2 linked regions of the Homo sapiens genome follow. The protein of the gene in region 2 interacts with the protein of the main gene of each other region in a pairwise test. Each region holds a gene or a part of one and is shown on either strand. Other genes may lie near its edges. The genes, in order: GPR37 and CCNQ.

Region 1 (3,024 bases), on a different chromosome or scaffold from region 2:
ACAGCTTTGTTTTAACATACAACATAGTTTTATGAATCATGCATATAAAATACTGCTATTAGAAAAACTTCTTTATAACATAATGATTACCTGCCTTAAAAGAAAATACGTTATAAAACAGTAAGGCCGGTTTTAAATTGTGCATAGAACCAGTAATTGTATCTTTAAGGCAATTAGAAGATTTATTGAATATTGGTTAAAAGTAGATTGACAATGACATTAAAGAATAAAGTGTAATTTATTTGGTGCTACTTTGTGAATGCTTCCAAGTACAAATCATCTCACAATACCATATACAACATACTTTCAATCACAACTCAAATATAAAATAACCTACAAAATCACATTGCTATAATCAATATACAATAATTGTATTTTTAAAAGAAGAAAAAACGTTAGCAATTTTAAGTTAAGTTGCAGTAACTTTTTTCAAATAAAATATTAGCACCATACCAGATAAAATAATCTAAAACTATTGGCCTTCTCATTCTTCTTAAATAACTAAATAGAAACTTTTTTTCAAAGCACAAATATTAATTTGTAAAATCAGTTCTACAGTAGTTAATATTTCTTTCTTTATTGTTTCTTTTTTGCATTTTTCCCTATAAGGAAAAATATGAATTAAAAACTTTCACGGGATATGAAAATCAAACAAATAAATCTGACCCAACCAAGTACTGTCCTTCAGCAATGAGTTCCGACAGAAGCAAAAGTGGACATTTCACGGCGTATGGTACTGAAAGGCGAGAGTTCGAGTTCCGTGGTGTACTCGTTGTCATTGTCATCACTGGTCACCGTTGAAGACTTCTGAATGCATTCCTCACAGCAACAGCAGCAGCACTCCATGAAGGCCCGACTGAAGGGTTTGCAGAGACAGAAAAGGAGGACTGGGGTGACACAGGACTTAAAGAACAAAAGGAACTGGCTGATGATATTAAGGAGGTCCATTGTCTGCTGTGAAACCCCTGTAGCCATGTAGGCAGTAACAATGTTGCAGATATTTTCAGGAATAATGCAAAATCCATATAAAATGGTCAGTGCCACTACTGTACAGTTCATCTGACTCTCTAGTTGAATCTGCCGTTTATTCCCTCGGGTACAGGCTTTCTCTGCTTTGCGGATTTTCCTCGCAGTCACTAGAGAGCAGGTGATGGTGAAAAGCGTGGGCAAACAAAAGTAACAGCCAAAATACCACCACAGTCTCGCACTGTCGTAGGTGAGGGCTAGAACATAGATGGTGTCTGGTAAATCAGGAGAGATCTTAATAATGCACCTTTCTGCCGGAGCTCGGCCACTAAACCCCAAATCCTCCTTGCTCAGCTGGCGGAGAACAACTTCTGGAAGTGCTAACAATAGAGCTCCCACCCATATAACAGCAAGTTTGGCAGTTGTTGAGGAACAGTTTTCGATCATTTCGTAGTACATCTGTACGTTGGTGGCAGCACGGAAGCGGTCTATGCACAGAGCACATAAGGTGAAAGTGGTGACTCCCAGAGAAGCGACCTGTGGGGGAACATAGAAGACATTTATTCCCGGTGTCCCCCGAAAGATCAAAGCACTAGGAAATAAATGCAGATTGGCAAAACTGTAAAAAAAAATATGGATAAATAAAAATGAGAGAGAGAGAGAGAACAGTTTTCCAGAATGAGGCATGGGTAACTGGGCTCAGGACGTCAGCTGAATCATTGTAAGCATAAAAAAAGAAAACACACTGTAGTGGTTTGAGGGTCATGGAGTGCAGAACATTTAGGACTGGAAGGATCCATAAAGATCAGCTAGTCCAATCCCTTTTTATTATAGATCAGAACCCAGATACACTAAAAATTTTATTCACCACGAAAATGTCTGCCACTAGGAGATCTAGATAAGGAGTCAGGGTAGTGCAGAAATTCCCATTTTCATTGCTGACCAGGATGCTCATGTTTTCCAGTGTGAGGGTCAGTAGTGTGCCTTACACACAGCAAACACTCAAGAGCTTATTGTCTCCAATGGACTAAATGATTGGAGGGCTCCTCCAATTTTTCCTAAATGCAAAATAAAGTATTACAGTATTATTTTCAAAGGCATACACTTACGGAAAACAAGAAAGGGAAATTCTCCAGAGGCCAAAATCAAAAAGGAAACAAATTTCAAACAGGCCAGAGACCCCTCCCTCTTCATGCTGCGTGTTTGCCCTAGGGGCACCTGCCAATCCTGGTGAGGGTTTCAAGTTAGTTTTAGCTAGAAAAATGGGGCAAGGTGCCCAGGTGCACAGAGACAGGAAACAGAGCTGGGGCCAATGTGGGTGGGGATTGGGTCAAAGACTCCCTGTGAATTTGGAACTCCTCAAATGCTGACATCTTTAGAGGTGTAAAGGGAAAAAAGAGAGAGAGATAATGAAGAAATCTGCCTGGATGACAGGGTTTGGGTCTGGATGAACTGGGGGAAAAGGAGGGAAAAAAATGGCAAATTCTAACTGGGAGCCTGAACTTACATGGTGTTAGGATCAGAATTTCCAGGATCTACGTGGCTCAGAAAACCCAAAATACAATTTAAAATAATCCCAGGCACCTGGTTAAAATCAAACATAAATCCTCTCTGGAAGAATGCACTTTAAAACCAGGCCTCAAAAAATCCTATAGTTAAAATTCAAGGGACATGGGTTCACAAAATCAAAAGTCACAATATGCAAGAGACAATGAGCCACTATGAATTTATATGCCAAAGATACAGAATCAGACATAAGAAGTATATTTATCATAAAATAGGTATGTACATCAAATTTAAAGAAATAGGAGATACTAAAATAGAACATGTAAAAATACAAGAAAATATGCAGAAAATAGCCAAAAAGAATGTCTAGATATCCCAAACACAGGAAAATTTTGGAGCATAAAACTCTTTGACAATAACCACATGAAAAACTGTATTCAAAAAGGCACTGCTCTTATAAGCATATGGTCCAGACATCTAAAAAAATCAACATTTAAAGGTTAAGAACCAAAAATATGTACCTATTTTTTTTTCACATAGAGGCTCTCCAGG
Region 2 (3,820 bases):
GGGCACCTCAACTCCGTAGACCTGCAGGGCCAGGTAGAGCACCGCCACGGCGATGTGCTGGGCCTGGAAGCGGAGGCACAGCGCCCCATGGTAGCTGTCCCGCAGCAGGGCCCAGGCGGTGACGGCAACAGGGGTCCGCTGCCAGCTGTGGCGGTTCAGCCAGTTCTGGAGGGAAACCAGGTAGTGGAGCAGGTACTGCAAAGACACGTGTGTCAGCCTTTAGGCCCACCAGCTGCTCTCCTCATGCTGACATAATCATATCAGCACCTGCTCCAACCCTCCAGCAGCTTCCATGTCCCTCAGGAAGAAGCCCCAAGGCCTTCTGCTGGCCCCATCTCCTGCCGATCCCACCCTGCCTTCCAGCAAACCCCATCTAGGGCCTTCGCACTTGCTGAGCCCTCTGCCTGAAACCAGCTCACCGTATGCACCTGCCCACTCTCACCCTCCAGACCCAGCTCTAGGGAAACCTACGAGGGCCACCCCCACCACAGTCCCTCTCCACCACAGGGCCCGCTCTGGCCACCATGAAATTCCTCGGGGCCTGGTGCTCCGGAAAGCACCCTCTTCATGGGCAGAACAGAAGGTGCTGCTCCCCATGCATCTGGCCTGCTGCCAAGGGCACATGCTGTCCTCGGCCACAACATCCAAATGACCTCCCAGCCCAGCTGCCAGCTCCTGCTCTCAGAACACTGACATTTTGCCAGAACCTCACACAATAAGACAGATGCTGCGAGCTCTCTGGACAGTCTGGAACACACATGCGTGTGACCCCAGCACACCATGCAGGAGGGATACATAGGTTACTTTCCACCCCAGCCCTGACTGGAAGGAGGGGAAGGGGCTGGCAGGCTCCCAGCCACACCAAGCTATCAGTTCCCCATCTGGGCACAGATCACACACCCCTTGAGGTCTGAGTGCTGCTCTTTCCTAAGCCCTGTCGCCTTGACAACTCCACCCTGCAGCCACCAGGGCATCTCCCACCTTCCCCCAGGATGCTCAGCAAGCATTCTGCCCACTAAGACACTACTGCGCAGAAATCCCAGACCAGGGCTTTCCAGGTACTGAGGTGGGAGTGTGGAAGGCTGGAGGCAAGATTATAAAGGCAACACGAAGGGCCCATGCGGGTGGAACCGTCTCTCACCTTGGCTGTGGTGGTAGGTCCGTGAACGGAGTCGTGATAAAATGGAACAGAAAAATATACACACAGGAATACAAGTGGAAGTGAGGATGCCAGTGGACTGTGTTGGTTTTGGCATCCTGGCTGTGTTACCCCTGGGGGAGACTGGGCTAAGGGTACATGTCACAACTGCATGGGAATCTACAATGATCTCAGGAAGAGTTCCGATGAAAAAGAATGAAACTCCTAGCCCAGAGCCCCAAACCACAACTCCTCCATCTCTGTCTCCGGCCAGCCTTCTGAGCTGCCCGTGCATGGAGCTGCGGTGCCCAGAGCATCGTGTGCCAGTCGCCTAAGCGTTCCACTTTTCCCTTTTACTGCTGTTTGAAATGGTTCTTCTGTTGAGACTCACACATTCCTAGAAGTTAAAGCATGCTGCTTGACTCAAGCGATTTGGCTTTCCCCATGGCTTCCTAAGCACAGCTGAGCTGGAGGCGTGCTCCGAGGCATCACAGCATCCCCTGGGGACGGGGACTCTGGCCGGTCACAAAACCAGCCTGCTTCCCCGAGGCCCAGCGTGCACACCATCTATATGGACCACAGGAGCTGCCACAGCTTCAGCGGGCAGCACGGACCCCGCCCACAGGTGAGCAGGCAGAAAGGCAGAAGCTGAAATGAGAATTGGCTGAGAAAACCCACAGGGGTGGGACGGGAGAGGCCGGGCGGCCAACCCAGCCACAAACACAGAGCCAGGAGACCCAGTTCCCAGCCGCAGCCCTGCTCTCCTTCTGTGCTGTGCTCTCGAGTATGAGATGGGATGCACTTTTGGGATAAAGAACAGAGACCATGGCTTGAGCCTCTCCAAACAGGCACCAGTTCCCCAGTATGTACCTTGTGTGGATGCTGGAAGGAGACCTGGAAGCGCAGAACTCTCAGCATGAGAAGCTCACACTGCACGATGCTGTCCCGGAGTTCCCAGAAGCGGGAGTCCAATTCCAGGGGCTCACCGCTTGGGTTAAAGTACCTGCGCAGAGAAATGGCAATGCTTCAGCAGCCAGGGCAGTCTCCTGAGCACTGGATGGCTCAAATTGCTTAAGTCACACAATGTCCAGATGCAAACTACATCGTCCATCTGCAGATTCATGGAGGGTCATTTTATTTGGGTTTTTATACAAAAATTCTTCATCTCCACATCTAGTGTAGAGAATGAAAACAGTAACCAACAGAGGAAAGAAGCCAGCTCCTAGTTTTAGCCAGATGGGCTGTCCGCTATCATTCAGCAAAATGTCAAGTGCAAAGACTGGCTGTTGGCGATGGCTCCAGAGGAACCGGAAGCTTGAGCATGCCAAGTCGGTTGTGCTTCCTGTTATACTCAGCCCGGCATTAGGGAGTCTTCATCACCTGAGGTGGCAATGCCCGGGGCTCTCACTCTGGGCCCAAGGAACGTATTTTTTTAACTTATTTTTACTTTTTACTTTTTGAGACAGGGTCTTGCTCTGCCTTTCAGGCTGGAGTACAGTGGTGCAGCCACAGCTCACTGCAGCCTTGACCTCCTGGGCTCAAGCGATCCTCCCGCCTCAGCTACCCGAGCAGCTGGAACCACAGGCATGCGCCACCACGCCCGGCTAATTTTTGTATTTTTGGTAGAGACGAGGTTTCACCATGTTGACCAGGCTGGTCTTGAACTCCTGGGCTCAAGCGATCCACCCGCCTCGGCCTCCCAAAGTGCTGGGATCACAGGCGTGAGCCACCACGTCCAGCCATCCAAGGAACATGTTTAAGCCTCTCATGGGAATGATATACTCCAAAAAGTGAACATTTCTCAGTTTTGTATTTCCCAGACCGTCTTTCCCTCGCCTTGGCGAAGACCCTGCATTCTGCCCCAGCAGGAACACACCTGCTTGGGCCGGCTGTGCCATGCCCACGCCACACCCACAGCAGGGCGAGGCTCCTAAGCAACTGGGACCTACCACCTGGCTGGGTCTGCACCCTCCCGCTGCAGGCAAGCTCTTCTGCCTGCAGCCATCCCTGTCTAAGACTTCCACAGAATCTTCTTTGACATGCCTCTCCAAGCTCCCTCTGCTGAAGCCCCGCCTCTGCCCTCCATCCAGCTTTCGAGGCTCCCCATAATCTGGCCCAGCGTTTCTCTCACAGACCCCACTGGCCTCTGACATCAGGCTCCTTCTCACGTTTGCTGCTACTGTTTCTGGCCCTGCCTGGTTCAAGGCCATCCAGGTACTTCCTTCCAAGCTCCATTGCTGGCACCTGGTGGGCAGGGCCCCATAGGAGCCTTCCCTGCCCGTCCCCCCCACCGGGTGGAGATCAGGAGCCCAGCCAAATGCCATTACCTGTTGGACACATTGATGATGTCACGAGTCCGCAGGTGCTGCTCTTCCACTTTGCCGGCCAAGTAAATTGAAGACATGGCAATCAGGTAAGGGTCATAGGCGTCCAGGTTGGTCTCGCAAAAGAACTTATGGTAAATGGTGCAAGCAGTGGCAATGGGAATGGACCGCATCCCTAGCTTGACACCTGCGGAGAGAAAGCAGGCAAGAGAGGACTTCAATCCAGCGCTGGCTCACTGCTCCAGTGAGGGGAGCCATTGGAATGGGCCCTAGCAGGTACAACCCTACTTGGACAAGGCTAAGAACTTCCAGCAGAGCCAGTGGCTCCTGCTGGGTCTCTTACTGGGCTCTCAGACTC

Evidence for each region.
Region 1: the proteins of CCNQ (region 2) and GPR37 interact in a two-hybrid assay, tested with the Homo sapiens proteins (one large-scale study listed by BioGRID and IntAct).

The regions. Positions count from the first base shown.
Region 1 is NC_000007.14:124,745,841-124,748,864, forward strand, and holds part of GPR37 (prosaposin receptor GPR37 precursor), read right to left. Parts: intron 1,504-3,024; coding exon 685-1,503; 3' UTR 1-684.
Region 2 is NC_000023.11:153,592,539-153,596,358, forward strand, and holds part of CCNQ (cyclin-Q), read right to left. Parts: intron 3,650-3,820; coding exon 3,466-3,649; intron 2,142-3,465; coding exon 2,009-2,141; intron 196-2,008; coding exon 1-195. UniProt on the Homo sapiens protein: Activating cyclin for the cyclin-associated kinase CDK10.